7 linked regions of the Homo sapiens genome follow. The protein of the gene in region 5 interacts with the protein of the main gene of each other region in a pairwise test. Each region holds a gene or a part of one and is shown on either strand. Other genes may lie near its edges.

Region 1 (3,463 bases), on a different chromosome or scaffold from region 5:
TGGAGGGCCCTATGGACACCCCAATCCTGGGATGTTCCCCTCTGGAACTCCAGGAGGACCATATGGCGGTGCAGCTCCCGGGGGCCCCTATGGTCAGCCACCTCCAAGTTCCTACGGTGCCCAGCAGCCTGGGCTTTATGGACAGGGTAAGTAGTAATCTTGGACTCCGGGTACCTCTGACGTGGTTCTGAGTTATCCATGGCCAGCCTTTGTCCTTCCTGTGGGTGTGCAGGCAGCCTGGTCTCTGGCACCTTAGCATCTTGCTTCCAGCTTCAGTGTGTATCCTCAAAATGATAAGTTTGTCAGCTAGTTTTGTTGCAAGCATTTATTTGTATTGCTTGCTCATGCTTACTTTCTTTTGCTTACATGTCAGCAGCTGTTAGCTGGCTGTTGAGTTTCTGTTCCCTGTGTCTTTTTCATTCAGGGATACATGCTGAAGGAGCAGCTCCTGTTTGGGATATGTTATCTTTGTGGCAGAGAGAAGGAGCAGGAGAGCTAGCAAGAATGCACAATGCCTCTTAAAGCTTCTCTGAAGTACTGTATGTCTTGCCCACTTGCATTCTTTTGGCCAGAGCACCCCCTGATCAAGACTGACATCAGTAGGATGGGAAAGGATGCCCCTCTGCAAGCCACCAGGCAGTGGGAGAGGATGTACAATGCTCTTATAGGGAAGGGGAGATTAGCAAGTAATCTAATAATAGATTATTGAACTGGCCTTTTAAACCATTGTACCATATTAGTACAATGTCTGTGGGTGTGCAGACTGTGTCTCCTGGCTAGAGATTATTAGCCAGGAGACGATAATGTAGCCTACCATGGGGAGAAACTCAGTTTAAATATCCGTTTCTCTGTGAAAATATCTCAGAAGACACACATTCCAGGCTCTTTGCTGAGGATTTTATTTTGCTGTTATCTCATTTAATCATCACAACAATTCTGGGGAAATGGGTTCATTTTAGAAATGTGAAAATCATTACTCAGAAAATTGTACATTTTGCCTAAAGTCACACAAGCTAGTAAGGATCAGATCCAGGGTTTGAATCCAGGTCTGCTTTGATTCCAAAGCCTGAGCCCTTCTATACAAACTACACAGTTCAAACATGTCACAGAATCTCTCCTGCCCTGGGGCTGTGGCCCTTGCTCCCCTATGACACCGATGTTTTAGGAAGATGGCTAGAACCTGCCCGGATTTTTCCAAGGAAGTCAGACTAATCCCTAAGTCAGGCATACCTTTTTCCCTCTGTCCTTACTGGGCTTTGGTACTAGGCAGTGGTTTCTGTCCTCCACAACTGCCCATGGCTGTCTTTGTGTGAAGGGACCCCGATTGTGGCCAGTTAACTCAGTGTCCTAAGGTAGACAGACTTACCAGCTTCTACACTGTTTTTTTTGGGTTTTTTTGTTTTTTTTTTTTTGAGATGGAGTTTCGCTTTTGTTGCCCAGGCTGGAGTGCAATGGCGTGATCTTGGCTCACCACAACCTCCACCTCCCGGGTTCAAGCGATTCTCCTGCTTCAGCCTCCCCAGTAGCTGGGATTACAGGCATGTGCCACCATGCCCGGCTAATTTTCTATTTTTAGTAGAGACGGGGTTTCTCCATGTTGGTCAAGCTGGTCTCAAACTCCCGACCTCAGGTGATCCGCCTGCCTCGGCTTCCCAAAGTGCTGGGATTACAGTCGTGAGCCACTGTGCCTGGCCACTTCTACACTTTTATCTACCACCCATTCCCCCATCTCGCAGTTTACCTTTTCCAGAGAATTCTTGAAATGCTACAGGGGTACAGGTCCCCGTTCCTTAAAAACATAAAATCAATTAAGAGTAGTGTCTGGAACACTATACGAGAACTCCAGAGGACTCATGGAATAGAAATCAACTGCAAATACTCATGAATCTTCACTGAAGGTCCTCTTCCATCAGAGTAAGAATGTCAGCTTGATGGAAGACAGGGAAGGTGAATTTGTGAAGCTTCGTGTGTAGGAGAAACCTGTAGCCAGGAAGTTACTGAGGCTGGCCCTTCCTGGCATTTCTGTTGATGGCCTTCACACCCCTTCCTCCAGGTGGCGCCCCTCCCAATGTGGATCCTGAGGCCTACTCCTGGTTCCAGTCGGTGGACTCAGATCACAGTGGCTATATCTCCATGAAGGAGCTAAAGCAGGCCCTGGTCAACTGCAATTGGTCTTCATTCAATGATGAGACCTGCCTCATGATGATAAGTGAGTCTCCGCCTTGCCCTTGGGCCTGAGCTGGGGCAGAGCCACCTGATAGTGGACAGTAGGTGGGTAGGTGGGTGGGTGGACATTCTGAAGAGAAATTCATTGACCAGGGAGGACTGTGGGGAGGAAGCTAGGTTCAGGGTGAGATCCCCTAGACTGAGAGCTCTTTTCCTGAGATCTTTCTTAAGTTCTAGACCCTGCCTAGTTACAGGTTAACTTAGTTTCCTCTTCTGTAGAATGGTACTCCCTCCCCTGTAGGAAACAGCAGGGAGGGGTCAGGTGCCAAGCCTGCAGAGAAAATGCAGTTCTGGATGGGGTGGGGCTAAAGGTGTCCAGAGTAGGAGGACGGTGCAACGCTTGATGTGGGTGTCTCAGGTGCAGGCATCTGGGCCTCAGGGCTTGGTTCTGTGAAGTCGCCTACTCCAGCCTGGAGAGAAGGGCTGCCTCAATGGGTCCTGAGGGGGACCCTTGGCCTTCAGTCTTGAAGCCTTCCTCCCCTCCTTTCCCTCCTCACCTTCAGACATGTTTGACAAGACCAAGTCAGGCCGCATCGATGTCTACGGCTTCTCAGCCCTGTGGAAATTCATCCAGCAGTGGAAGAACCTCTTCCAGCAGTATGACCGGGACCGCTCGGGCTCCATTAGCTACACAGAGCTGCAGCAAGGTGCGGGTCATGGCCGGGGCACGATGGGCAGGACAGAGCTAGACTCTTCTCTTTACACCCTAAGATACAACAAAGGGGTTTCCTCTTGTTACCGAATGTCCACCTGCACTACAAAATGCTGTTCTCAGTGCAGGCCTGCATCCCTCACCCCTTCTTTGACCCAGCTGGGGCACTGAGCCAAGAGCCAGGGCAAGGAAACACCTGGGTCCAGAATCAGGGCTGGACCCTGGAGTGCTGGGTGAGACGGCCCCAGCCACAGGGAGCCTTAAGGATGGAAACTTGGCACCTTAAGGACTATGAGACCAGTGTGTGTGGCTTGGGTGACTCCTTTCTCTCCAGTTTCTAGCATGTAGAATGGAAAGAGCCCTGAACAGGGCTCAGAAAGATGGGTCTGTTGCCACCTCTGCTAGTGGACAGTTTCTTTCCCAACTTTTGGGACCCTGAGCACTCTAAAAGTTGCAGTTGGGGAAGATGACCTGAGGCCACAGCCCCAGGTCTGGTTCCAAACTGACTGTGTAAGGCAGAAGGCCACAGTTTGGGCTCAGGCAGGTTAGTAAGAGGTTGGGGGAGGACCCAAGAGGGAGCTTTGC
Region 2 (4,208 bases), on a different chromosome or scaffold from region 5:
AGAAAGAAAGAAAGAAAGAAAGAAAGAAAGAAAGAAAGAAAACTGGCAAGGAGACGTGAAAAACACTGCCCCTTGTTCAGACTCTAGTCCCACCACCAGCTCTTTCAGACATGCCTATGTCTCAGGACACAGTAACTGGCTGTGTCAGCAGGGGACATGTCAGGCACCACAGGAGTCACCAAGCCTGCCCCTTACTTTGACACCTGTCTGAAAGGAGAGACCCATGTGCGGCTTTATTTCACATAATAAAGGAATATTTCATTCCAGCTTGCTTCAGGTTTAAGAGTGGAATGTGTACATTGCCAGGATGACTTTATAACATTGAGCTACTCAATATGCTTTTTAAAATCATGTTTATGTCATTCACTCCCTATGCCTTAGTAGCACACCTTACTCAGAGTGGATACTCAGAAACGATTAGATCTGAGTTAAGCATTAACATCCCTTCTCCTATGAGGCTTTGAATATCCTCATTTTCCAGCAGCAAAGGCCCAAGCAAGGGAGTAGCAGTGAAAATTGGTTTCCTTACACAAAGAAAAGACCCTAAAAGTCACTTTCCAATCACCATTAGTAGATGTAATTACAACTCAGATTGAAAAGCTGCAGCAGAATGGGTCTAGTGCTCACTCCTTCAGTGAGTACCTATGTAACTTGAGAATGTCATTTCATTTATCTGGACTTTGGTACCCTGATCTTAAATGGGGACAATGGCCAGATGAGTTCTCAGGTTTCTTCCCAAACTAGTCCACTTCCCTTGCTACCATCACCCCTTGTGGTTTTGTGGCTGGATTTACACTGGAGCCCAATTTGATTCAGCCCTAGGGTCACCCCAAGAGGCCAGTGCTATCCATATTGATAACTGGGTTTGCAAGGAGAAAGAAAAGCGATATTTTGAACAGCCCTAGGATAAATGAGGGTCCATATTAAGCAAGTACTACTCTTCATAAATTAGTACTGATAAATAGCCATAATCCTTAAGGAAAAAGAGAATTTTAAACAAAACCAAACCAAAACACACAAGTTTCTTTCTCTTTAAAGGAAAATTGCCAAGGATGCAGAAGGAAATGAAGATGATCAAAGACGAGGATGTGCATTTCGACTTGGCTGTGAAGAAGACCCCCTCCTTTCCCCACTGCCTGCAGCCAGTGGCTTCTCGGGGAAAGGCTCCCCAAAGACACCCCTTCCCGGAAGCTCTCCGAGGGCCATTTTCCCAGTTTCGGTATGAACCTCCCCCAGGAGACCTAGATGGGTTCCCCGGGGTCTTCGAAGGAGCAGGGTCTAGGAAACGGAAGAGCATGCCCACAAAGATGCCCTATAACCACCCTGCAGAAGAAGTCACCCTCGCCCTCCACTCAGAGGAGAACAAAAACCACGGCCTTCCCAACCTCCCTTTGCTGTTCCCGCAGCCCCCGCGCCCCAAGTATGACTCTCAGATGATCGACCTGTGCAACGTGGGCTTCCAATTCTACCGCAGCCTGGAACACTTTGGGGGCAAGCCCGTCAAGCAGGAACCCATTAAGCCCAGCGCCGTGTGGCCCCAGCCAACGCCCACTCCATTCCTGCCCACGCCCTACCCCTACTACCCCAAAGTCCACCCGGGCCTCATGTTCCCCTTCTTCGTGCCCTCGTCCTCGCCCTTCCCCTTCAGCCGGCACACCTTCCTGCCCAAGCAGCCCCCGGAACCTCTGCTGCCCCGGAAAGCCGAGCCCCAGGAGAGCGAGGAGACCAAGCAGAAGGTGGAGAGGGTGGACGTGAACGTGCAGATCGATGACAGCTACTACGTGGACGTGGGCGGCTCGCAGAAGCGCTGGCAGTGCCCCACCTGCGAGAAGTCCTACACCTCCAAGTACAACCTGGTCACCCACATCCTGGGCCACAGTGGGATCAAGCCGCACGCGTGCACGCACTGCGGGAAGCTCTTCAAGCAGCTCAGCCACCTGCATACCCACATGCTGACCCACCAGGGCACGCGGCCCCACAAGTGCCAGGTGTGCCACAAGGCCTTCACCCAGACCAGCCACCTGAAGCGCCACATGATGCAGCACAGCGAGGTGAAGCCGCACAACTGCCGCGTGTGCGGCCGCGGCTTTGCCTACCCCAGCGAGCTCAAGGCCCACGAAGCCAAGCACGCCAGTGGGCGCGAGAACATCTGTGTGGAGTGCGGCCTCGACTTCCCCACCTTGGCCCAGCTGAAGAGACACCTCACCACGCACCGGGGCCCCATCCAGTACAACTGCTCCGAGTGCGACAAGACCTTCCAGTACCCGAGCCAGCTGCAGAACCACATGATGAAGCACAAGGACATCCGGCCCTACATCTGCTCAGAGTGTGGCATGGAGTTTGTGCAGCCGCACCACCTCAAGCAGCACTCCCTCACCCACAAGGTACTGCGGGGCCTCTGGTGGGGCGGACGGGGCCTTGGGAAGAGGAGCGGGGCCCTGAGCAGAGCACTGGGGAGCAGGACGCCTGTGCCGCTCTGCACCTTACCCCGAGGAGGTGGGCAACCCCGGACAAGCGGTCCCTTGGCCGAGCCCTGAGGTCCTTCCTCACGTTTAAATAAGAGAGAACGATTCTCGACCAAGCCCTTTGCCCCAGCAGCCTTCTAGACTCTAAGGTAGGCCTAGAAATAAATAATGCAGACATTTGCAGAGGAGATGAGGAAGGATGCTCCCTAGCCTCCAAGAATCTTGCAGATTCGGTTTCTAGAAACTTCATCCAAGGCACTAGCATGAGTAAGTCATCAGACCCTAGATCAGCTCTGTGCCTGGGATGTGCCAGGGAGCACCTTCTGGATAATTCTCTTCGTCTTGTACTGTTGAAGCAGTGGAAAACTTTTTGGATTGTTTTCTCCCTCAACTGTGAGACCTGCTTCATATGCAAGTTCTCCAAGGGAAGCAGAGCTTGGCTGAGGCCGGCAGGGCCTATACCTCCCTGCGTTGGACCCGTGCCTAGCTGGGTGAAGTGCCCTGTGGTTTACATTGTAGGAGGCATGAGAAAGCATCCTTCTCTGTTTGGTTTTGTTTGATCTTCTCTGTGCTCAGGTCTTCAAGGGGAAATACAGGCCCAAGAGTCTGAGTTCAGCCCAGTTTGCAACCATAGCCCTGGAGTCATTCAGGCTGAACTAAAACAAGGCCCTAGTGGTGTTCCTGAAATCTTACCCCAGCTAAAGTATGGAACCTGCTCTGAGCCTCCGAGAGGGAGTTTTGCCCCCACTGACTCCCACTCTCACACCCTTAACCTCAAGTGGTTTTCTTGGCAGGAAAGACTTCTAGCAAGCCAGAGTTTCTAAAGCATTCTTTAATTCTGAAAGGTCAGGAGAGGACTTTGCCCAGCCAAGATAATGTTTCTGCTGTGCTATAATACGTTTCACTTCTTAGGTTAGGACAAAACACAGGGTATTTTCTGGCTCTGCCACAGAGATGAAATGTGTGGCTGCCTTGTGGGCTCTGCACAAACAGCTCCTGCCCTACAAAAGGTACCTGTAGATACTATCCAGAGGGGAGTCGCCTGCCAAGTGCAGGAACCATCAACAAAGGACCCAGACTGGGATTCAGCCGTAAAGGGGACCATTCGCTAACTTCAGGGGCTCCTTTATATGTGGGAAAGGAATCAAAAGTGCATTTTAGAGCATATGAAGATCCTGTAAGATGGTAGAAAATGAAGTCAAAATGGGAGAAACAGCCTGGTGTCTGAAATAAGTTTCATTTGAATTTTAATTAAAACAAAATACACTTTAATGAGAGGTGTCAGCAAACAGTGAGAGGTAGTATTTGTTGAACACTTGCTATATGACAGGTGTTTCACTCTTCATTTAATCCTCATTTACTTCTCAACAACTCTAAGAGCTACTCCCGATCTGCAGTTGAAGACACTGAGGCATGGGAGGTCACTCAGGAATCTCTGACACAGGCACCTGTGCCTTGGCCACTCTACAGTGAACACTTCCTCTTTTCCACCTGCTTCCCTGTTCGCACCCCTGACCACCTGACAGGCTCCGACTCTGTGATTCCACTGATCCTATCAGAGAGACAACAGCTTCCTTTGTTGCCTTAAAGTTGTGTCCAGGCTCCTGCTCATTTGCATTCTAGGCCAGCCCACAGGTGAATCTTACTTTGGACACAGAATTCTCTTTAAAGAATTCTGAAAACAGTGATAAGCAGAAACGTCTCCTTGGTTTCAGGACAAATGGATCAGATCCAAGCCCAGAG
Region 3 (4,208 bases), on a different chromosome or scaffold from region 5:
ATGAGAATCTAATGCTGCCACTAATCTGACAGAAGGTGGAGCTCAGGCAGTAATGCGACCCATGGGGAGCAGCTATAAATACAGATGAAGGTTTGCTCACTTGCCCACCTCTCACCTCCTGCTGTGCGGCCCGTTTCCTCACAGGCCACGGACTGGTACTGGTCGGTGGTCCTGGGGTTGGGGGCCCCTGCTCTTACACATGTGCAATTATGCATTTATAGGTTATCCTTCCTTCCTTCCTTCCTTCCTTCCTTCCTTCCTTCCTTCCTTCCTTCCTTCCTTCCTTCCTTCCTTTTCTTTCTTTTTTAATTTTTAGATGGAGTCTCGCTCTGTTGCCCAGGCTGGAGTGCAATGGCGCGAACTTGGCTCACTGCAACCTCCGCCTCCTGGGTTCAAGCGATTCTCCTGCCTCAGTCTCCTGAGTAGCTGGGATTACAGGCACGCGCAACCACGCCTGACTAATTTTTGTATTTTTAGTAGAGTCGGGGTTTCGCTATGTTGGCCAGGCTGGTCTCAAACTCCTGACCTCAAGTGATCCGCCTGCCGCGGTCTCCCAAAGTGCTGGGATTGCAGGCGTGAGCCACCGTGCCAGGAGGTTATTATTTCTTTAATGTCGGTCTACCCTATCTGACTATAAACTTCATGTGTGCAGGGCCTATGTCTGTTTTGTTAATCTTTGTTTTCCCTAGCACCTAACACAGTGGCTCCCTTTTAGTAGTCAGCCAATAAGTTTATTGAATGCATGCATGCATGAATAAATACATGACGTTGAATAAATTACACAATTTACTGAGCTAGAAAGCACTAGGAAAAGAACAGCTTTGGGAAGGAAGATCTTGAGTTTAATTTGGATATGCTGAGTTTAGACCATGAGATTTCCTAGAAGTCTGTGTATTTCACAGCCTTCCAGAATGGGTCAAATCCTCTCTTTTGGTTTCTTTGTCATAATTTCCCATTTATATGTCTGTTTCTTCCACTAGATTGCCAGCTCAGTGTAGGTAAGAACAATGACTCATCACTTTATCTCCAATGGCCAGCTTGGCACATGGATGGGCTCAAGAAATGAATGAGTGTGTGAAGTAAGTGCCCCAGTTTACAAATTCCCAGAAAGGGTGAGAGAGGCAGACGATGATACTTCCTTATGTCTTCCTCCAGCTGTGTGTCTAATGCCTGGCACAAAGTAAATAATAAATATTTGTGGAATTGAACTGACTTTCCTCTAGCTGTAGTCTAGGTCTACACTTTGCTGTTTGGGCTGTAGAATGACCTTCCTTAGGAGTCTCGCTCTGAGGTTCCACGGCAATAATAAAGATCATTATCTCAAAATATGGAGGGCAGAGAGGTTGTCTAGTTTGAGAAAACCTGAAGTAAATCTCCTTTCTGGTAGTGGTGGAATAAAAACATTTTGTAAAACGAAACACCTTGCCTAAGCTATTGTAGCAGTGCCACTTTTTATACTTACATTTGATCTACTTATCACGAGTAGTCAAGAATGAAAATAACTCCAACTGTGGTTTCTATGAGAGATGTGAATGTTTATGGAATAACAAATACTGAATACAGATAGTTAAAGTAGTGTAGACTTTAGTACAACTGTCATTAATTGCAAATGGTGGGGAATCATCTAATGAAAAAGAGAGGCACAAGAAATCTTAGGGTAATTAATGTTTGAAAAATATATCTTGTAAGAGGTTATTTATGTAGAAAGGCACGATTATGTTATTGTGTGTGTCTGGAGTGTTTTGAATGAGATGTTTACAACAAGATAGAATGTAAATGAGTAGAATTAGGTAACCATAACTTGGTTGCAAGAATACCCTGCCACATACATGATAAAGAGGTAGAGGCTGTAGTTTTACATAGCATGTTATCAAATTGTTTCTAATTTTCTGTCCATGTATCGGTGCTTCCCATTACTCTGCCAGGAGAGCAGAGACTGTGACTTATTCACGTCCTATTCCCAGGGCCTTCAAGGAGTAAATGCTCAAAAGTGATAGAATGAATAAATCAAATGTGTTATTCAAGCTGTTGACAGTGATTGTATCTATATTGTGGTGTAATATTTTCCTTGTTTTGCTTATCTGTATTTTCAAATGTTTCTACAATGGTTTCAGGATAAATGAATGAATGAATGAGTGAATACTTTTGTAATTACAATAAAAAAGGCTTACAGACTTCTATCACTTATTCGTAGATTTCTCTAGAGATTTCACGTGCATGTAGTTTGAATTGTACACACATATTACATATATATGCACTACATATATACATACGTAATTTATGCACAAAATATATTTTTATGAATAAAATATTAACAATAATATAATATATTTAAAATACAATTTTTTAAAATCAGCAAATATTAAACAAGGAACTCTGTTCTGCTATGGTCTCTACGTGGTCCCAGGTGACTCTGGTGGCCACCCAGAATCCTACCTTGAGGAAGGTCAGGCAATCCTGGTTCTCACTCTTGTCCTTGCCTCGTAGGTCGAAGTTGTAGAGGGCCCTGCAGAGCGGGGGCGGCTGGGGCAGCTGCTTGATGACTTCCACGGAGCTGGCTGGGAAGTTCCCGCTGATGCCATTGATTTCCCCCTGGTACCAATTCTCATCAAGCTGTCTCCGGAGAAGGATGATATCTCCCTTATTAAACCTTAGGTCACCGGGATTCTGCCCTCTGTAGTTGCATAAGGCCTTTGCTCGAGGCACCTGCAATGGCACAGACCAATAAGATATGTACTTAGCTTAGAGTCTAGAGGAACAGAAGATACAAGCATTCCCCCTTTTATTGTACTTTGCTTTAACATGCTTTGCAAATACTGAGTTTTTTACAAATCAAAGGTTTATGGCAACCTGTGTTAAATAGGTCTATCAGCGCCATTCTTCCAACACCATGTGCTCACTTTGTGTCTCTGTGTCACATTCTGGTAACTGTTATTAACTTTAAATATTTTAAACTTTCATTATTATTATATCTGCTATGGTGATCTGTAATCAGTGATCTTTGAGGTTACTATTGTAATGTCTCGGGGGGCGCCACAAACTTTGCCCATACAAGACAGCAAACTTCGTCGATAAATGTTTGTGTTCTGACTGCTCCACAAACTGGTCATTTTCCCATCTCTCTCCCTCTCCTTGGGCCTCCCTATTCTCTGAGACACAAAAATATTAAAATGAGGCCAATTAATGACCCTACAATTGCCTACAAATTTTCAAGTGAAAGGAAGAGTTTCACATCTCTCACTTTAAATCAAAAGCTAGAAATGATTAATCTTAATGAGGAAGGCATGACTAAAGCTGAGATAGGCCAAAAGCTAGGCCTCTTGTGACAAACAGTCAAGCTGTGAATGCAAAAGAAAAGTTCATGAAGGAAATCAGAAGTGCTACTGCAGTGAATACATAAATGATAAGTAAGTGAATCAGCCTTATTGCCGATATGGAGAAAGTTTGACTGGTTTGTGTAGAAGATCAAACCAGACACAACAGACCCTCAAGCCAAAGCCTAATCAAGATCAAGATCCTAACTTTCTTTAATTCTATGAAGGCTGAGAGAGATGAGGAAGCTGCAGAAAAAAAGTTTGAAGCTGGCAGAGATAGTCTGAGGTTTAAGAAGAGAAGCTGTCTCTATAACATAAAAATGCAAGGTGAAGCAACAAGCCATCAATATTGAGGCAAGACCCACCACCAGCAAGAAGATTACAACTTGCTGAAGGCTCAGATCATCATTAAGGTTTTTTTTTTAGTAATAAAGTATTTTAAATTAAGTTAGATATATTGTTTTTTAGGCATAATGCTATTGCACACTTAATAGACTACAGCATAGTGTAAACACAACTTTTTTGTTTTCTTTTCTTTCTGAGATGGAGTCTTGCTCTGTTGCCAGGCTGGAGTCCAGTGGTGTGATCTCAGCTCACTGCAACCTCCACCTCCCGGGTTCAAGTGATTCTCCTGCCTCAGCCTCCCGACTAGCTGGGATTACAGGCGCACACCACCACACCTGGCTAATTTTTGTATTTTTGGTGGAGACGGGGTTTCACTATGTTGGCCAGGATGGTCTCGATCTCCTGACCTCATGATCCACCCACCTTGGCCTCCCAAAGGGCATTACAGGCGTGAGCCACCATGCCCAGCCAAATACAACTTTTATATGCACTGGGAAATGAAAAAAAAGTGTTTGACTTGCTTTATTATGGTATTAGCTTTATTGTGGT
Region 4 (4,208 bases), on a different chromosome or scaffold from region 5:
CTCAAAGAGCCCGGGAAACACTGGGCTGCAGGGAAGAGGAACAAGTTGGAACCCTCCTGCCTCTGTCTGGGCCCTTCCCATATCTCCCTCCCCATCCTAGATTCCTCCAATCTCCATTTTTCAAGAACCTTCTCTCCCTCTCCTACACACGTGGGCTATCTGCAAATTTATTCAACAAATATTTTGGACCAAACCATGTACCAAGCCCTGTGCAAGGCACTGGATGGGAAGTAAAGAAGCACTTAACTGTCAGGGAGTTTGTATCCTAGCTGCGGAAAGAAGCAAGCAGCTTCCAGGTACTCAAGTACAATGTAAAAAGGAAATCAGTTGAAAGAAAACATGAGCTCTGTTTTTCTTAGTCTTCTCAGTGTAACAAATTTTAGCATAATGTTCAATAATATTTTTCAGTCACATATTTTAAAGAAAGAACTGTATACCTACATATGTGAAACAGTGATGAGATAACCCACGAAAAGCCTGTAGCACAGTATACAGTATCCGCTCAGCCTTTAATAAATGTCAGCTATAATTATTACCATTGTTATTCTTTATAAAAAGTAAAGGCTTGAAGCCAGACACAAAAGCCTACTTACTGTATGACTCCATTTATGTAACATTCTGGAAAAGGTAAAATACAAGGACAGACATCTTATCAGTAGTTGGCTGGATCTAGGTTGCAGAGAAGTTATTAACTACAAAAGGGTGAGTGACCTTTGTTGGGTAGTGGAAATTTCCTGTACCTTGATACCTTTTTTTTTTTTTTTTTTGTAGAGACAGGGTCTCACTATGTTGCCCAAGCTGGTCTCAAACTCCTGGGCCTAAGTGATCCTCCCGCCTTGGCCTCCCAAATTGTTGGGACTACAGGTGTGAGCCATCGGCGCTGGCCCTATACCTTGATATATTCTATCAAACCTCTCAGAACTCTTACACCTAAAAAAGGTTAATTTTACTGTATGCAAGTTATACCTATATAAACCTGACTTTTTAAAAAGGAAAGGCTTAGGCAATCCCTAGTTTTAGGTCTCAAAAAAAAAAAATAGTGCAGCTGATACATTTGACCATGTGAAAAACAGAACTGTAGGGGTTTTTTGTTTGTTTGTTTTTTGAGATGGGGTCTTGCTCTGTCGCCCAGGCTGGGGTGCAATGGTGCGATCTCGGCTCACTGCAGCCTCCGCCTCCCGGGTTCAAGCAAGAATTGTAGGGTTTTATAGTTTCTCAAAAGGCTTGGAAAGAATTAGTGATTAATACCAGAAAACTAAGCAAATGAAAAAATAATGCAATTGTCAGCTCCAGGAAAAACAAAAAGCTTTAGAAGAAAATAGATTAAATCACACTACACTATTTGGCTTGATAGTAAATGAATCTTTCAGAGTTATAATAATGTAAACACAGAATACTGATTTATTTTTAAATTACTATGAAGCTGAAAGGGGAAAGGAAGCCAATGTGATGGTGTAAGAAGACTAAATGCTCATATCCCATACTAAAAGCTTAACAGATAATGCCTAAAATTGACAGACGAAGAAATAGCAATGAGAGACAATACAGGAGGGGAGTATGATTACAAGCACCGATTCTGGAGCTAGACTACCTAGGTTCTTTAACACCTACTAATGATAGTGAGGTTGTACAAACTGTTTAACCTTTCTGTGCTTAAGTGTCCTCATCGGTAAAAGGAAACAATAATAGACCCTGCTTCATAGGGGTTGTTGAGATTAAATAAGCTAATGGCTGTAAAGCACTTAGAACAGTACCTAGTATATAACAGGTATTACCTAAGGATTACAGATTAGTAATAACAGTCAATTAATATTATTATTTAGAAATCCAAAGGTAAATACCAGAAGACATAGGGGAAAGGAGCTGAAAGTGGCTGTCACTGGGCAGAGGGATTTATGGGTGAAAAGGAGAGGTCTGGAATTTTTTTTTTTTTTTTTTTTTAAGACAGAGTCTCACTCTGTTGCCCAGGCTGGAGTGCAGTGGTGCAATCTCAGGTCACTGCAACCTCCAACTCCCGGGTTCAAGCAATTCTCCTGCCTCAGCCTCCTGGAGTAGCTGGGACTACAGGCACGTGCCACCACACATGACTAATTTTTGTATTTTTAGTAGAGATGGGGTTTCACCATGTTGGCCAGGCTGGTCTTGAACTCCTGACCTTAGGTGGTCCACCCGCCTCGGCCTCCGAAAGTGCTGGGATTACAGGCGTGAGCCACTGCGCCCGGCTTGGGACTACTTTTTTATTTTTTTCATTTAAAGGCCTATAGTACAATTTGGCTACTTATGTTAGAATACTTTGAAACCAATCAGAAATTCATTAAACAGAAGAAAAATTCCTGATTCTCATCGGAAATACAGATAAGCACAACTGTAACTTGTTTGACAGGAAGACTGATGCAGCATAAATAGCCCAGAGATAGTATTCTAATTAGCATTCCCTAATCGCACAAAGAGCATCTACGGGACCCCAGTGTGGCGTAAGGGCTGACCCTGTATTCACAGAGCTAGAAAGTGAGCTCAGAAATAACAGCAGGAATACTAACAAAAAAACAAGAAACCTCCCCAAACAGCATGTGACTGAACACCAAATGAGCAGTGCAGTGTGTGCAAGACAGAGCTCTATGGGCTGGTGTGGTCAAGAAAGGTTTCATGGAGATGGTGTGAAGGCTGAGAAGGCCTTGAAGAGGTTGAATAGAGAACTAAGGGCATTCCAGGAAGGCATCCTGTGCAGCTGAGGTGTAGGGATAAAGTTGGAAAGGTGCCAATGCCAGCCTAATGAGTTGGCCTCTATCCTACAGCCCTGGCTGCTTCTGTCATTAAGATCTTTCAGGAAAACAGATTAGTGGTTTAAAAACCCGGGATCTGGATCATGCCCCCTCCAATGACCAGTTATGTGACTACGGCTAAGTTACCTAGATATTCCCAAACCTCAATTTACTTATATATAACATCAGAAAAAGGTCTATTATAATACATCTAAGGATTGGTATGAGAATTAAGTGGATTTACCAGCAACCCTTGGCATAATACCTAGCAGAGTAAGCACTCAGTAAATGGTAGCTATCATAAGAAATTCTACAGGATCAACAACCTGGTTTCTTCAAGAAATAAATTCAAGGGGGTGACAGAAAAGCTACAAATTAAAAGTCTTAAGAGACATATCAACCAAATGCACTGTATAGACCTTGTTTAGATCTGGATTTAAATTAGCTACAAAATAATTATGAGACAACTGCAGAAATTTGAATATTGATCCCATATTTGATGACATTAAGGAATCACTGTTAACTTTTTAGGTTTGATAATGATACTATGTTTTTTTAAAAGAGTATCATTTAGAGATACATAATAAAATATTTATGGATAAAAGGATATAACATCTAGGATCTGCTTTAAAACAATCTAACATGAGGGAGTATAGATGAAGTAAGAGTGGCCACTTGCTCAGCTGGGTGCGATGGCTCACGTCTGTAATCCCAGCACTTTTGGAGGCTGAGGCTGGTGGATCACCTGAGGTCAGGAGTTCAAAACCAGCCTGACCAACATAGTGAAACCCCATCTCTACTAAACATACAAAAATTAGCCAGGCATGGTGGCAGGCGCCTGTAATCCCAGCTACTCGGGAGTCTGAGGCATGAGAATCGCTTGAACCCAGGAGGCAGAGGTTGCAGTGAGCCAAGACTGCACCACTGCACTCCAGCCTGGGCTACAGAGTGAGACTCTGTCTCAAAAAAAAAAAAAAAAAAAAAAAGAGTGGCCATTTGCTCATAAGCGTTGAAGCTAGGTGATGGACGTATGGGAGGTCACTGCACTACTTCACTTTCAGAAATTTTTGAAATTTTCCCTAATAAAAAGTTTAAAAACAAAAGTAAGTAGAATTGAGCAACTGGTAGCTGTGATGGTTACTATTTTTTCATGGATATAGAGTAGAGTGTGGCTTATCTTTGTTGTCCACTCTCTTCCCCAGAGGGTCTAACCCTGACTCTTCTATGGATGATACAAGCTCAATGTAAACCTAATGATATCAAACCACTCCTTCGTTGTTTTTTTTGTTTTTTTAACTGCCCATAGCCCTCTTAAGATCCCTTGCTTTTTAAAACACTTTGATAGCTTCCCTCTACTCTACGGGTAAAAACCCCAATTCATAATAGAGCTGTTTGCTTTTAAAAGGTCCTATTTCTTTAGCCTCAATTCAGTTCACCTCCTCTTCA
Region 5 (4,208 bases):
TGTATTTTTAGTAGAGACAGGGTTTCACCATCTTGGCCAGGCTGGTCTTGAACTCCTGACCTAGTGATTCACCTGCCTCCGCCTCCCAAAGTGCTGGGATTATAGGCGTGAGCCACCGTGCCCGGCTAAGGTCTTATTTCATATCCTTGGAGTATTTGCAGTTCTTAAAAGATCTCAAGCCTTTCTTCTTCCCTCCCTGTTTTTTTTTTTTTTGAGACGGAGTTTTGCTCTTGTTGCCCAGGCTGGAGTGCAATGGCGCGATCTTGGCTCACTGCAACCTCCGCCTCCCAGGTTCAAGCGATTCTCCTGCCTCAGCCCCCTGAGTAGCTGAGATTACAGGCGCCCACCACCACGCCCAGCTAATTTTTTGTATTTTAGTAGAGACAGGGTTTCATTATGTTGGCCAGGCTGGTCTCAAACTCCTGACCTCAGGCAATCCACCCGCCTCAGCCTCCCCAAAGTGCTGGGATTACAGGCATGAGCCACCATGCCTGGCCCTCAAGTCTTTCTTCTTAAATCTGTATTCTTAGCTATTTCATACATTGTGTGGTTATTTTAAGTAGTTTTTTTTCCATTTAAATTTCTAACTGGTTAATACTAGAATAGAGAAACACTACGACTTTTTGTACGCTATTTTGAATCCCATCCCCTTACCAAATTCTATTAATTCTAAGAACATTTTGCTGGGATCATTCAGCTTTTCTAAGAGCATAATCACATTATTTGCACATAAAGAGAGTTTGCATTATACCAATAATATTGCTAGATTTTTTGTTTTTGTTTTTGAGACGGAGTCTCGCTTTGTCGCCCAGGCTGGAGTGCAGTGGCGCGATATCAGCTCACTGCGAGCTCCGCCTCCCAGGTTCATGCCATTCTCTTTTTTTTTTTTTTTGAGACGGAGTCTCGCTCTGTTGCCCAGGCTGGAGTGCAGTGGCGGGATCTCGGCTCACTGCAAGCTCCGCCTCCCGAGTTCACGCCATTCTCCTGCCTCAGCCTCCCAAGTAGCTGGGACTACAGGCGCCCACCACCACGCCCGGCTAATTTTTTGTGTTTTTAGTAGAGACGGGGTTTCACCGTTTTAGCCGGGATGGTCTCGATCTCCTGACCTCGTGATCCGCCCGCCTCGGCCTCCCAAAGTGCTGGGACTACAGGCGTGAGCCACCGCGCCCGGCCTTTCATGCCATTCTCTTGCCTCAGCCTCCCGAGTAGCTGGGACTACAGGCGCCCGCCACCACGTCTGGCTAATTTTTTGTATTTTTAGTAGAGATGGGGTTTCACCGTGTTAGCCAGGATGGTCTCGATCTCCTGACCTCGTGATCCACCCACCTCGGCCTCCCAAAGTGCTGGGATTACAGGCATGAGCCACCGCGCCCGGCAACTGTTGCTAGATTTCTTAGGGAACCATCCCTCCATTCCAGAAACAAACCTTACTTATAATGTATCATACATAGGGATCACTACTAGATTGATAGTTACTAATATTTTATTTAGCACTTCATTTTATTTATTTTTTTGAGACAGAGTCTTGCTCTGTTGCCCCGGCTGGAATGCAGTGGCACGATCACAGCTCATTGCAGCCTCAACCTCCTGGGCTCAGGTGATCCTCCCACCTCAGCCTCCCAAGTAGCTGGGACCACAGGCCCCAGTACCTGGCTAATTTTTTTATTTTTAATTTTATAGACACAGTGTCTCACTATATTGCCCAGGCTGGTCTTGAACTCCTGGGCTCAAATGATCCTCCCACCTCAGTCTCCCCAAGTGCTGGGATTACAGGTATAAGCCACTATATCCAGCCAACTTTCTTTCTTTTTTTTCTTTTTTTTTTTTTGAGGAGTCTCACTCTGTTGCCCAGGCTGGAGTGCAGTGGCGCGATCTCGGCTCACTGCAACCTCCGCCTCCTGGGTTCACACCATTCTCCTGCCTCAGCCTCTCGAGTAGCTGGGACTACAGGCGCCCGTCACTACGCCCGGCTAATTTTTTGTATTTTTAGTAGAGATGGGGTTTCACCGTGTTAGCCAGGATGGTCTTGATCTCCTGACCTCGTGATCCGCCTGCCTCGGCCTCCCAAAGTGCTGGGATTACAGGCATGAGCCACCGCGCCCGGCCAATCCAGCCCACTTTCATATCTTTAATAATAGTAAACTAATCTACAGTTTCATTTTGGTATCATCTTTATCAGAATTTTGGAATTAAGGTTTAAGAAGCTTCCTAAATATTGAGAGGACAGACTCTAGCATAGCAGTCTGAGGCGTTCCCTGGAACACTCCCTAGTGAAACTGATGAAAAGTATTAAAAAACAACCATTTAAAGTCTCTGAAAATGTTCCTAAGGACATACAGCCCTATGAGAAAGATTTAATGAGGAAAAGCTACTAAAACTCAGTTCCATGAAGAGTTGTGATGTCTGAAACACAACCTATTGCATCCCTGCCTCCCCCAGCTTAGTGTGATGGAAACTCCACTCCAGACAGTACAGCCAAGAAGACAGGTCTGCCCGCATCTACCCAGATCATCTCAGTTAAGGGGTATGATATCTTCCCAGGAGGAACAGAATGTCAGCATCTATTTTTCTGAGTTGGAGTTTCACTCTTGGTTGCCCAGGCTGGAGTGCAATGGCGTGATATCGGCTCACTGCAACCTCTACTTCCCGGGTTCAAACAATTCTCCTGCCTCAGCCTTCCGAGTAGCTGGGATTACAAGTGCCCGCCACCAAGCCCGGCTAATTTTTGTATTTTTAGTAAAGATGGGGTTTCACGATGTTGTCCAGGCTGGTCTTGAACTCCTGACCTCAGGTGATCTGCCCACCTTGGCCTCCCAAAGTGCTGGGATTACAGGCGTGAGCCACTGTACCCAGCCGGATGTCAGTATCTCTCATCCCGCCCCCAGCTACCTGCTGATGAGGCTAAGTTCTAGACAAGCATAGCTGAGAGAGAACGGTTCCTATCTTCTACCCAGCCACACGCACGTGGAATGGAGGCTTGACCCTGGGCATGGCACACTAAGAATATAAGGGCTCACATACCCATGGCTTGTTCATAAAGCAGAGGTCCCATGCCAGGAAAGGCAAACCAAGACCGGAGGCTACAGCCTACTGTACCTCCTCCCATGTCTCTCCTAAAGTGGCAGAGTCACTCAGAGAGAGGTACTCCATTGTCTCCATCCCCAGAGCCTTGGCTCAGAGATTCTGCCCACAGTGAGAGCACGGCCTTAAATCAGTAAACTCCCAATCTCAAAGGAACTGACTGACTTCACTGGCAAGAGTGTTGGGAAGTGCAAGACTAGGGCCTCTCTCAAAAACAATGGAGACTAGGGAGGAAAAAAATTAAAAGGACATTGATAGCTTTTTTTTTTCTTTCTGAATATTTATTGGAGTTAAACACTGATAGCTTTGTCCTTTTTTTTTTCCCCCACCACACAGCCATAAAAAAGAAGGACCGGTAGATTTGACAGTGATATTAGCTAACCCATAGGCTAACTAGGTTACCAAAGAGGACAAGGACCAGTGAAATAGCTAAGAACAGACTCCCTGGGTTCAGAATAAATCTCAAACAACCACCTCAAAAACCATCCCTCTTGGGCCTGGCATAGTGGCTGACGCCTGTAATCCCAGCACCTTGTGAGGCTGAGGTGGGTGGCTCATAAGATCAAGAGTTCGAGACCAGCCTGGCCAACATGGTGAAACCCCGTCTCTACTAACAATACAAAAATTAGCCGGGCGTGGTAGCACATGCCTGTAATCCCAGCTACTCGGGAGGCTGAGGCAGGAGAATTGCTTGAACCTGAGAGGTGGAGGTTGCAGCAAGCCAAGATCGCGCCACTGCATTCCAGCCTGGGCAACAGAGCAAGACTCTTGTCTGGGAGAGGGGGCGGGGAGGGGAGGGGAAAAAAATCCCTATAAAGGAGCCCAAATTTAATTGGATCAGATTGGGCAGCAATCTATGCCCCAAAACATTGTTGAAAACAATAAAGCAATCAGCCAGCAATTGGTAGAGTTTAACAGCTGAGTATGGTCTGGGAAAAAGAGCGAGCCCATGGCTTCCTCCCTCCAAGACACACCACCAGTTTCATACTGTGTGAGAATGAAAGAGACCTAACTAAAAAAATCTAGCAAGTCACTAAACAAATAGACAAGCAAATACAGTAACAAGACCCTGGGAGGGTGGGTGGGGGATCAGTGCCCAGAGTTGCCACAACAAATTATCTAAGATG
Region 6 (4,208 bases), on a different chromosome or scaffold from region 5:
TCTGAGTCCCTCAACTCCCACTAAGGCTGAGGCAAATATCTGTCACCACTTCATATAAACCCTAGGCAAACTATTTCAAATGACTTTAAAGCTCTAAAAAGGTAGATTCTGGGGAGAGCCAACAGGTGGAAGCAGAAAATGGCACTGTGTGAGGCTTCATTGCTTAATTTTCCATTAACTATTTAAGATTCAAAGCTTCCAGCCTGAAGGTCAGCTCCAGTCTGTGCAAGGGAGGGCAGCTAAAAGGCAGATCTTTTAGGTAATCACCTTTTCTTGACTACAAAAACCAGAAGGCTGGCCGGGCACGGTGGCCCATGCTTGTAATCCCAGCACTTTGGGAGGCCAAGGCAGGCGGATCACCAGATGTCAGGAGTATGAGACCAGCCTGACCAACATGGAGAAACCCCATCTCTACTAAAAATACAAAATTAGCTGGATGTGGTGGGACACACCTGTAATCCTAACTACTCGGGAGGCTGAGGCAGGAGAATCGCTTGAACTCGGGAGGAGGAAGTTGCGGTGAGCCGAGATCGTGCCACTGCTCTCCAGCCTGGGCAACAAGAGCAAAACTTCATCTCACCAAAAAAAAAAAAAAAAAAAAAAAAAAGAGGACCAAGTTTGAAGCAACCACGGATGCTGCAAAATGAGGAAAGAAACCTGGAAATGAGAGAGTCAAAGACAGGAAGCCCTAAATTCTGTACATAAACTGGGCCCAAATCTCTGCATAACCTCACATATATGGGGTAGATTCCAAGCTAAAGAACTGAAGTGAGATTTGAGCGGCCACCCAAGACACAGAGTTTGCATTGTAAATCAAATCAGGTTACCTGCCTGCCAAAGATAAAAACACTTTTTAGAGGAATGCAAACAAACATCTAAGGTGTCCACAATGTAGCAACATTCTCACTGTACAAAAATCAACCCAAAATCTGACCCATGCTCAAAAAAGAAAAAAAAAAGATAATTATGGAGACCAACTCCAAGCAGACCAGACATTGGAATTAGCAGATAAGGATTTTAAAGTAGCTTTTTAAACCATGCTCATTAAGGAAAGCAAAGTAAGGCCATAATGAATTAAAGGATAGGAAATTAGGTAAAATAAATAGAAACTATATAAAACAAGAATCAAATGCAAATTCTGAAACTGCAAAATATGTGAAGTAGAACATTCACTGGATGGCCTTAATCACAAAATGGAGATAAGGGAGAAAAACTTGAAGTTGAAACTAGGTTAATAGAAACTATCCAATCTGAAGAACAGAGGACGGGGAGAAAAGATTGGGGAAAAGAAGTGAACAGAGCATCCGTGAAAGAAAAATTACTTGAAGAAATAATGGCCAAAATGTCTACAAATTTACTCAGAAATACAGTATAGACAATTCAAAGGCTCTGAGATTGCCCAAGCAAGTCCAGTGCCGAGAACTCTACCTACATTGTGTTCACACTAATTCTCAGGCCCAGGCTATGGAGGCTAAGTATATGCCCAGTGGTACAGCTCTGAGTAAGAGAGTCAGGTGTCTCTTTGAACAAAAAATATATATATAAAATTCAATGGGCAGTGCAAGACTCAAGCCTGCTACTAACTCTCTTGTTTCTTTCCTGACCTTTGGGGAGGATACTAAATGCCCTTTCTCTCTTAGCTCTTCCCTCCCTTACTCTCCTTGGTTTACCAAGGAGTCTTGCAAATAAGTGATAGAGTCGATGCTACCAATTCCCTGCCGTCTGCCTTTCAGCCACACCCATCAAGTCTGAACTCAATTCTATCTCCTCACTCTGTGCCTCCATTCCACTCTACCCATGGTCCCACTCCCTTTAGGATAAACGTCTAACACCATTGAAGACTCACCTCTTTCTTCTGATGCTGCTCATTTTGCCCATCTTTAGCGAGCTGGTTTAGCTAACAGAATGTCTCAAATTGGGATCCAAGTGTTTTACATGGTGACATGCCTATGGGGAAATGAGGCTGGAAGTGCAAACCTCTTATTCATAAATTGATCTCAGGTCTATCTGAAGTAAAGGCAGATTCTACACCAGAGAATTACCAAGGGCTGCAAGAAAGAGTTTCACACTAAGAATGGCTGGAAATCACAAGCATTCCCCTCATGGCACCTGCTGTAAATCCCCAAGATTTATGGTCAGTAAGAGTTGTGTGCAGTTATAATCATGCCTCACGCTGGGATGATAACCTTTCCAGAAACCAGGTGTTTTTTTGTGTCTGGGCTTAATCACCAAACCCAGCAAAGCCCTGGACCACGTGACTTTTTCATTCAGCAGGTGGGAGCCTCATGTCCAACCTCAGAAACTAAGCAGGGTCACTGTTTAGATAAAGAAGTGGGTGGGATGTTCCAGTAATAAGAGTGCTAAGAGCAGAGGGGTGACGACAATCTGCACAGACACAAGGGTGTGCAGACACTGGGCTGTGCAGACACTGGGCTGACGCATCCCTTCCCCTGTAAGCCTCTAGGGGAACACCCAGATGGTAGCTTCCCTACATTTCCTGACAGTGGCATAATTTTGTTCTCGGTCTATGAACAGTAGTGCCTATCATGGCAGGCACAGGGTTGAGAAATAATGAAATTGTGGTAGAAAAGAGAACACAGATGTCTTCTACTCATTTCCCCTTTACTTCTCTTTTTAGGGTAGGAAATAAAAAGAGATTCATATCTGCTCCTTTTCCTCCCTGTGGACAACCTTGATCCTGCCACTTTTTCTTTTTAAGGCCCTTATGTTCATTAACAGCTTATTTTGGAAATTCTTGCAGAATCTGCTTTCCTCTACTTTAGCCACATTTGATGTACATGGTATTTATTGTTACTCTGACTCCGGCAGGGGCAGAGGGGCCTTCTGGGTGATATGTTTATTGTTTTAAGTGACACAAGGCAAGGATAATTTAGGACAGGTCAGAGGGTAAGTTTTTGTTTAGCGAAGCACCATCAGGAGGAGGGAGGGTACCTGGAGTTGCATCTGGGGGCCTCAGAGCTAGGTGTTGGGGCAGGTCTTCCGCCCCAGACCAAGGGTTTGTCCCCATTCTCCTAAGCTTTGGGCAGCTAACAAAGCAACCTGCAACAACCAACCTTCAAAGCATCCCTGTCTATACTTTCAGGATAGGAAATATATCAGTGTCTGAAGCCAACTAGACATCTCACAAAGTCTTCTTCATTTCCTGCAAATTGGATATAAAGAGATAAAAAGACCCACACCTGGAGACCGAACAAGATATTTGCAAGCCACCCCTCAGTACTACTCTCACCCTTTCCTACCGATTACATGTCCCTTATACATGTGCCTAGGACTCTTACTTGGTGTTGACCAGGGTTTCCTAAAACAAAAGCAATGCTCAGAAATGGTTCACACTTCTTATTATGGTCTTTAGACTCTCAGAGACAAAGAATACTGTTTTCCCAGCAAAATGAAGCCCAAACTTTAGTGTTCATATTGTTTAATAAGTCATAGGTTGAAAAAACAGCAGCATAAACTACAATGTTTTAATACATCAGGACACACAAACACTGCACTTAAACCAAATCATTTAAGATACATGCTTAGAATAAATATAATCATCTGGCCTTAGCAATATAGCAAAACCTTGTCTCTACAAAAAGTTTAAAAATTAGTTGGGCATGGTGGTCCATGCCTGTAGTCCCAGCTACTAGGAGACTGAGGGGCAAGGATCACTTGAGCCCAGAAATTCGAGGCTGCACTGAGCGATGATCACACCATTGCACTCCAGCCATGGCTACAGAAGGAAACCTTGTTTTAAAAAAAAAATTTTTTTTAAGTGGCCTGATTCAAGTCAAGCATCAGACAAGGCCCTCAACTCCCTCTCATTCTCAAGCCCCTGTCCAGTGGTTTCCACTAAGCTCAGGAATCCTTTGGCCTCATTTCTCCCATTGTGGGTGCTCCTGCCCCATTACCCAGACTGGACTTCCCGTGGATCTAGAAGATGGCAGCATTGTGTAGAGAAGAGCACCTCCAACTCACAGTCTCAGATGTTTCCAGTCCTATTCTGGAGAAAACCTGAAGGCAGAATGAATTAGAATGGTTCTGCTTCACCTAGACCATCTGGGACCTTTACTAGCACAAAATCATGAAGCAAAAGGGAGCAATAGGAAGAAAAGTCACCAGGTCTGAGGCACCGATGTGCAAGCATTGTGCTGGAACAGTCAACATTCACCATCATCTCCACCTCACAGCAACCCTGCCCTTTA
Region 7 (4,208 bases), on a different chromosome or scaffold from region 5:
TCTGCCTCCAGCTCTTACCATAGATAGCACCATCTTGTTATTCATCTCAGCTCAAAGAGGTGACATCTCTCATCACCTAGCCTATATAGCACCAACCCTCCAATCATCACAGAACTCTGTTTTATTCTCTTCATGGCTTACATCCCTATTTGCTTGGGAAACTCATTTGGCTGTCTCTCCATTATATCTCCAGTACCTTGTATAGTGCCTAGTGCAAAGGAAATTTTTGATCGATGAAAGCACAAATAAATAATTAAAGGCAGGAAGGAAAAATATAATACACCAGAACAAAATGATGATTGTCATTACTTGGGAAAGACAATCAAAAGGCCAATGCACTTTAAAGGTTTTTAACAGTTCTCCGTTTCAGGATAAAACAAACTCTTTAGCACAGTTTCTAGCCCTTTCCATAAACTCCTGCCATCTCTTACGACTAATTCCATTTTAACTACAACCATGCTACGGGTTCTATTTTTCCCTCTCTGTCTCAAGCACTCCTGCTCTCCCTACCAACCTGGATCAAAGTTCCCTTTATTTGGAATCCCTTCTTCCCTCAATTCCTTTCTAGCCAGTATGTACTACTATCCTTTCAAGGTTTCCGCCTAGGCAGTGAGTCCTCCAAGAAGCCGCTCACTGACCTAAGGCTGCACTGGATACACATTTGCTCCCACAGCACTTTAAGTTGTCTGCTTCTAGAGCATTTATTATCCTACTTCCTAAGTGCCTGCTAACTCCTTTGTCTCCCTACTAAACTGTAAAATTCTCTGGGCCAAGGAACTATCTTTATTCACCAGTGTATCTCTAGCACTTACTGCAGTATCTAGTACATAGGAAATAGTCCAAAAAAAAAAAAGAAAGCTGATCAATGAACAAAAACACAAGGAAGAAAAGCCTAAAACATGACTAATTGGGTGCTGCTACAGTCTTAGCAGGAAAGTATAAAAAGGTAAGTATTTGCTACAGACACACGAGACGAACGGTGCTGCACACTACACACATAATAACTTCGTGTTCTCGCACATGAACACATGCTGTCTAAATCGTTAACATTCTTATTGGAATTGTATGAAATACTTTCCAATTTTTCACCATTCTGAAATGAGCTCTAATAATGTTCTGAAAGCAGAATCACTTCAAGATAACCACACCATGAAGAATGACCGTTTGAGCTTAACAGCACGGAAACTTTGCCCTCTTAAATAAAACTCCATTCTAAGCCTAGTTTGTCAGCCAAATCAAAGTAATAAGTCAACACAACACAAATCTCTCCACCAGAATAACTTGAGGCTTACAATGAAATTTTAAAATCATGCTAATCAACCCATCATGCTAATTGTCAGCACATGGAACTGGGAAGATCTTACCTCTGTTATCATTTTACAGCTTTTACAGGGTCCAATCTGACTGAACAACTGAAGTATAAGGACTTCTGTCACATCTCTGGAAAGGTTACCTACGTATCTGCACAAGAAAAAAATACGTTATCAGCAATTTTTCCTTTAGCTCTGGCTCTAATGTGTTATCATCTAATTCATCACCTTTTCTTTCTTTCTTTCTTTCTTTCTTTTTTTTTTAGATGGAGTTTTGCTCTTGTTGCCCAGGCTGGAGTGCAATGGCATGATCTCAGCTCACTGCAACTTCCGCCTCCCAGATTCAAACGATTTTCCTGTCTCAGCCTCCCAAGTAGCTGGGATTACAGGCGCATGCCACCATGCCTGGCTAATTTTTGTATTCTTAGTAGAGACAGGGTTTCATCGTATTGGTCAGGCTGGTCTTGAACTCCTGACCTCAGGTGATCTGTCCGCCTTGGCCTCCCAAAGTGCTGGAATTACAAGCGTGAGCCACTGCGCCCGGCCACCTTTTATTTCATTTTAACTTCCTCTGTTTTCAACAAAATTTCTCCAATTAAACCTGATCCTATGAAAGTAAGATTAACCCTTATTTAGGAAAGCAACAATTGTTCTTAGGCCACTAAAATACCACTCTGAAAGACATTTAAAGAACAAATCAATGTGATCTTGTATACCCCAATGGCATTATTATTCTGTACCCTGGATATCATTTTCTCATCTTATTCTAATTGTTAAAATTTTAAACTGGTCTCAAGATAACTACAATTTCTAATTAAAAATAATTTATAACACACACACACATACAACAAATACTAATTCATTAAAACATCTGATTGTAATAGGATATTAAACATAAAGTGAGTTTATCTTAGATTCCCAACCAAAGCAATTACATGAACAAAGAACAGAATTAAAGTTATAGTAAAACATACAGAGGGTGGAGGGTTTTTGTTGTTTTGTTTTTGGCTGAGTAAGGTTGTTTGCAATGATGTCTTCACTGTTTCATTTTAGGAGAGCAGGGTAAAATATAAAATTTCCTAGTCTAAAATGCATCAGAATCAACAAAATATATATGTATTTTTTTGAGATGGAGTCTCACTCTGTCACCCAGGCTGGAGTGCAGTGGCATGATCTCAGCTCACTGCAACCTCCGCCTCCCAGGTTCAAGCGATTCTCCTGCCTCAGCCTCCCAGGTAGCTGGGACTACAGGCGTGCACCACCACGCCCGGCTAATTTTTGTATTTTTAGTAGAGACGGGGTTTCACCATGTTGGCCTGGCTGGTCTCAAACTCCTAACCTCAAGTGATCCACCTGCCTGAGTCTCCCAAAGTGCTGGGATTACAGGAGTGAGCCACCATGCCCAGCCAACAAAATATATCTTAATGTAGATAAAAAAGCTAATACAAAGATTTCTTAAGAAATTCAGAGAAAAACTAAGACAAATCCAGGCATACTTTTGACTATGGACACTTAAAAATTTGGGTTTTTTTTCCTAATTACAATTGAATGTGTTTTGTGTAAAAGATTTTAAATACAGGAAAGTTTAAAAAAGAAAAGAAAAAAATGCTACTTCATCACACAGAGAGGACCACCTTGGTTTATGTCTTGTACTATGGATTTATCTTAATTTATCTAAATAAATTGCCAAACACTAAAGTCTTTCTGGTATTCTACACATAATTCCTCAAATTTGCATCTGTTATGAACAACCTCATAAACCAAACAATATCTGTAAAATTTAACAAAGTTCATTCTGGAAAGTAGATTTCTTTTTCTACTTGTAATATATTACATCTGGAAACTGAGTATTAAGACCAAAATAAGACTTGCAACATAGCTGCCACATTAAATACACAACATGCTTTAAGATGGAATACTCAAAGGGAAAAATAGACTGAGAAAGCTTAGGTTAAGTAAAAAACTTAAAAGATCCAATTAAGAATTAGTAGCGATTTTCCAGTTAAGAATTTTATTGCAATGAGTACTAATAATCTTAGTGTACCTGCTCTAAAATTGAAACACACATCCAATATTACCTAACTAGAGGACTAAACAAGTGACAAACTGTTTTACGTCCACTATGCCACCTTTTCCACGTAATTAAGGAGCTGATCCATCAGCAGGCCAATGTAGTGACATACTTTTTCCAGCAGGACTAAAAGGTTATTGGGTTATGAGCCAGCGATAGGCTGCTTGCCCCTTCTTAACTCATAGGGGTTTGTGAGCCTGTATCTCTGAAATGATTTCTTTTTGTACAGAGTAGACCTATCTGTAAGAAAAATGAACAAGTGACCAGGCATGGTGGCTCACGCCTGTAATCCCAGCACTTTGGGAGGCTATGGCAGGCGGATCATGAGGTCAGGAGTTTGAGACCAGCCTGACCAACATGGTGAAACCCTGTCTCCACAAAAAATACAAAAATTAGCCGGGCATGGTGGCGCGCACCTATAATCCCAGCTACTCGGGAGGCCGAGGCAGGAGAATCGCTTGAACCTGGGAGGCAGAGGTTGCAGTGAGCCGAGATTGCACCATTGCACTCCAACCTGGGCGACAGAGTGAGACTCCATCTCAAAAAAATAAATAAAAAAGAAAGAGAGAAAGAGAGAGAGACAGAGAGAAAGAGAGAAAGAAAGAAAGAAAGAAAGAAAGAAAGAAAGAAAGAAAGAAAGAAAGAAAGAAAGAAACGAACAAGTGATCTTGAGCTTCTAAACATTATGCTCCTTGCCTAAAGGGCTAGTTAGCTCACTTCTAAGAGAAAAGAAGGATGGATAAAACTGGTTTTCACATATTGAAGCTAGCTAATAACAAAATTAAAATAGAATTATCATTTTAATATAACACATTTTAAATGATTTA

Evidence for each region.
Region 1: the proteins of AKAP8L (region 5) and PEF1 interact in binary tests that used the Homo sapiens proteins (3 or more experiments, as listed by UniProt).
Region 2: the proteins of AKAP8L (region 5) and ZNF366 interact in binary tests that used the Homo sapiens proteins (3 or more experiments, as listed by UniProt).
Region 3: the proteins of AKAP8L (region 5) and SH3RF2 interact in binary tests that used the Homo sapiens proteins (3 or more experiments, as listed by UniProt).
Region 4: the proteins of AKAP8L (region 5) and HDAC3 interact in binary tests that used the Homo sapiens proteins (3 or more experiments, as listed by UniProt).
Region 6: the proteins of AKAP8L (region 5) and SAXO1 interact in binary tests that used the Homo sapiens proteins (3 or more experiments, as listed by UniProt).
Region 7: the proteins of AKAP8L (region 5) and TIAL1 interact in binary tests that used the Homo sapiens proteins (3 or more experiments, as listed by UniProt).

What each region holds. Positions count from the first base shown.
Region 1 is NC_000001.11:31,631,905-31,635,367, reverse strand, and holds part of PEF1 (peflin), read left to right. Parts: coding exon 1-146; intron 147-424; coding exon of another isoform or gene 425-522; exon of another isoform or gene 523-702; intron 703-875; exon of another isoform or gene 876-2,053; coding exon 2,054-2,209; exon of another isoform or gene 2,210-2,729; coding exon 2,730-2,873; coding exon of another isoform or gene 2,874-2,932; intron 2,933-3,463. UniProt on the Homo sapiens protein: Calcium-binding protein that acts as an adapter that bridges unrelated proteins or stabilizes weak protein-protein complexes in response to calcium.
Region 2 is NC_000005.10:72,458,341-72,462,548, reverse strand, and holds part of ZNF366 (zinc finger protein 366), read left to right. Parts: intron 1-1,038; 5' UTR 1,039-1,052; coding exon 1,053-2,384; intron 2,385-4,208. UniProt on the Homo sapiens protein: Has transcriptional repression activity. Acts as a corepressor of ESR1; the function seems to involve CTBP1 and histone deacetylases.
Region 3 is NC_000005.10:145,998,556-146,002,763, reverse strand, and holds part of SH3RF2 (E3 ubiquitin-protein ligase SH3RF2), read right to left. Parts: intron 2,707-4,208; coding exon 2,437-2,706; intron 1-2,436. UniProt on the Homo sapiens protein: Has E3 ubiquitin-protein ligase activity. Acts as an anti-apoptotic regulator of the JNK pathway by ubiquitinating and promoting the degradation of SH3RF1, a scaffold protein that is required for pro-apoptotic JNK activation.
Region 4 is NC_000005.10:141,630,101-141,634,308, forward strand, and holds part of HDAC3 (histone deacetylase 3), read right to left. Parts: intron 26-4,208; coding exon 1-25. UniProt on the Homo sapiens protein: Histone deacetylase that catalyzes the deacetylation of lysine residues on the N-terminal part of the core histones (H2A, H2B, H3 and H4), and some other non-histone substrates.
Region 5 is NC_000019.10:15,384,104-15,388,311, forward strand, and holds part of AKAP8L (A-kinase anchor protein 8-like), read right to left. Parts: intron 1-4,208. UniProt on the Homo sapiens protein: Could play a role in constitutive transport element (CTE)-mediated gene expression by association with DHX9. Increases CTE-dependent nuclear unspliced mRNA export.
Region 6 is NC_000009.12:18,945,699-18,949,906, forward strand, and holds part of SAXO1 (stabilizer of axonemal microtubules 1), read right to left. Parts: intron 2,010-4,208; exon of another isoform or gene 1,879-2,009; coding exon of another isoform or gene 1,847-1,878; intron 1-1,846. UniProt on the Homo sapiens protein: May play a role in the regulation of cilium length. Stabilizes microtubules at low temperature.
Region 7 is NC_000010.11:119,586,788-119,590,995, forward strand, and holds part of TIAL1 (nucleolysin TIAR), read right to left. Parts: intron 1,462-4,208; coding exon 1,365-1,461; intron 1-1,364. UniProt on the Homo sapiens protein: RNA-binding protein involved in alternative pre-RNA splicing and in cytoplasmic stress granules formation. Shows a preference for uridine-rich RNAs.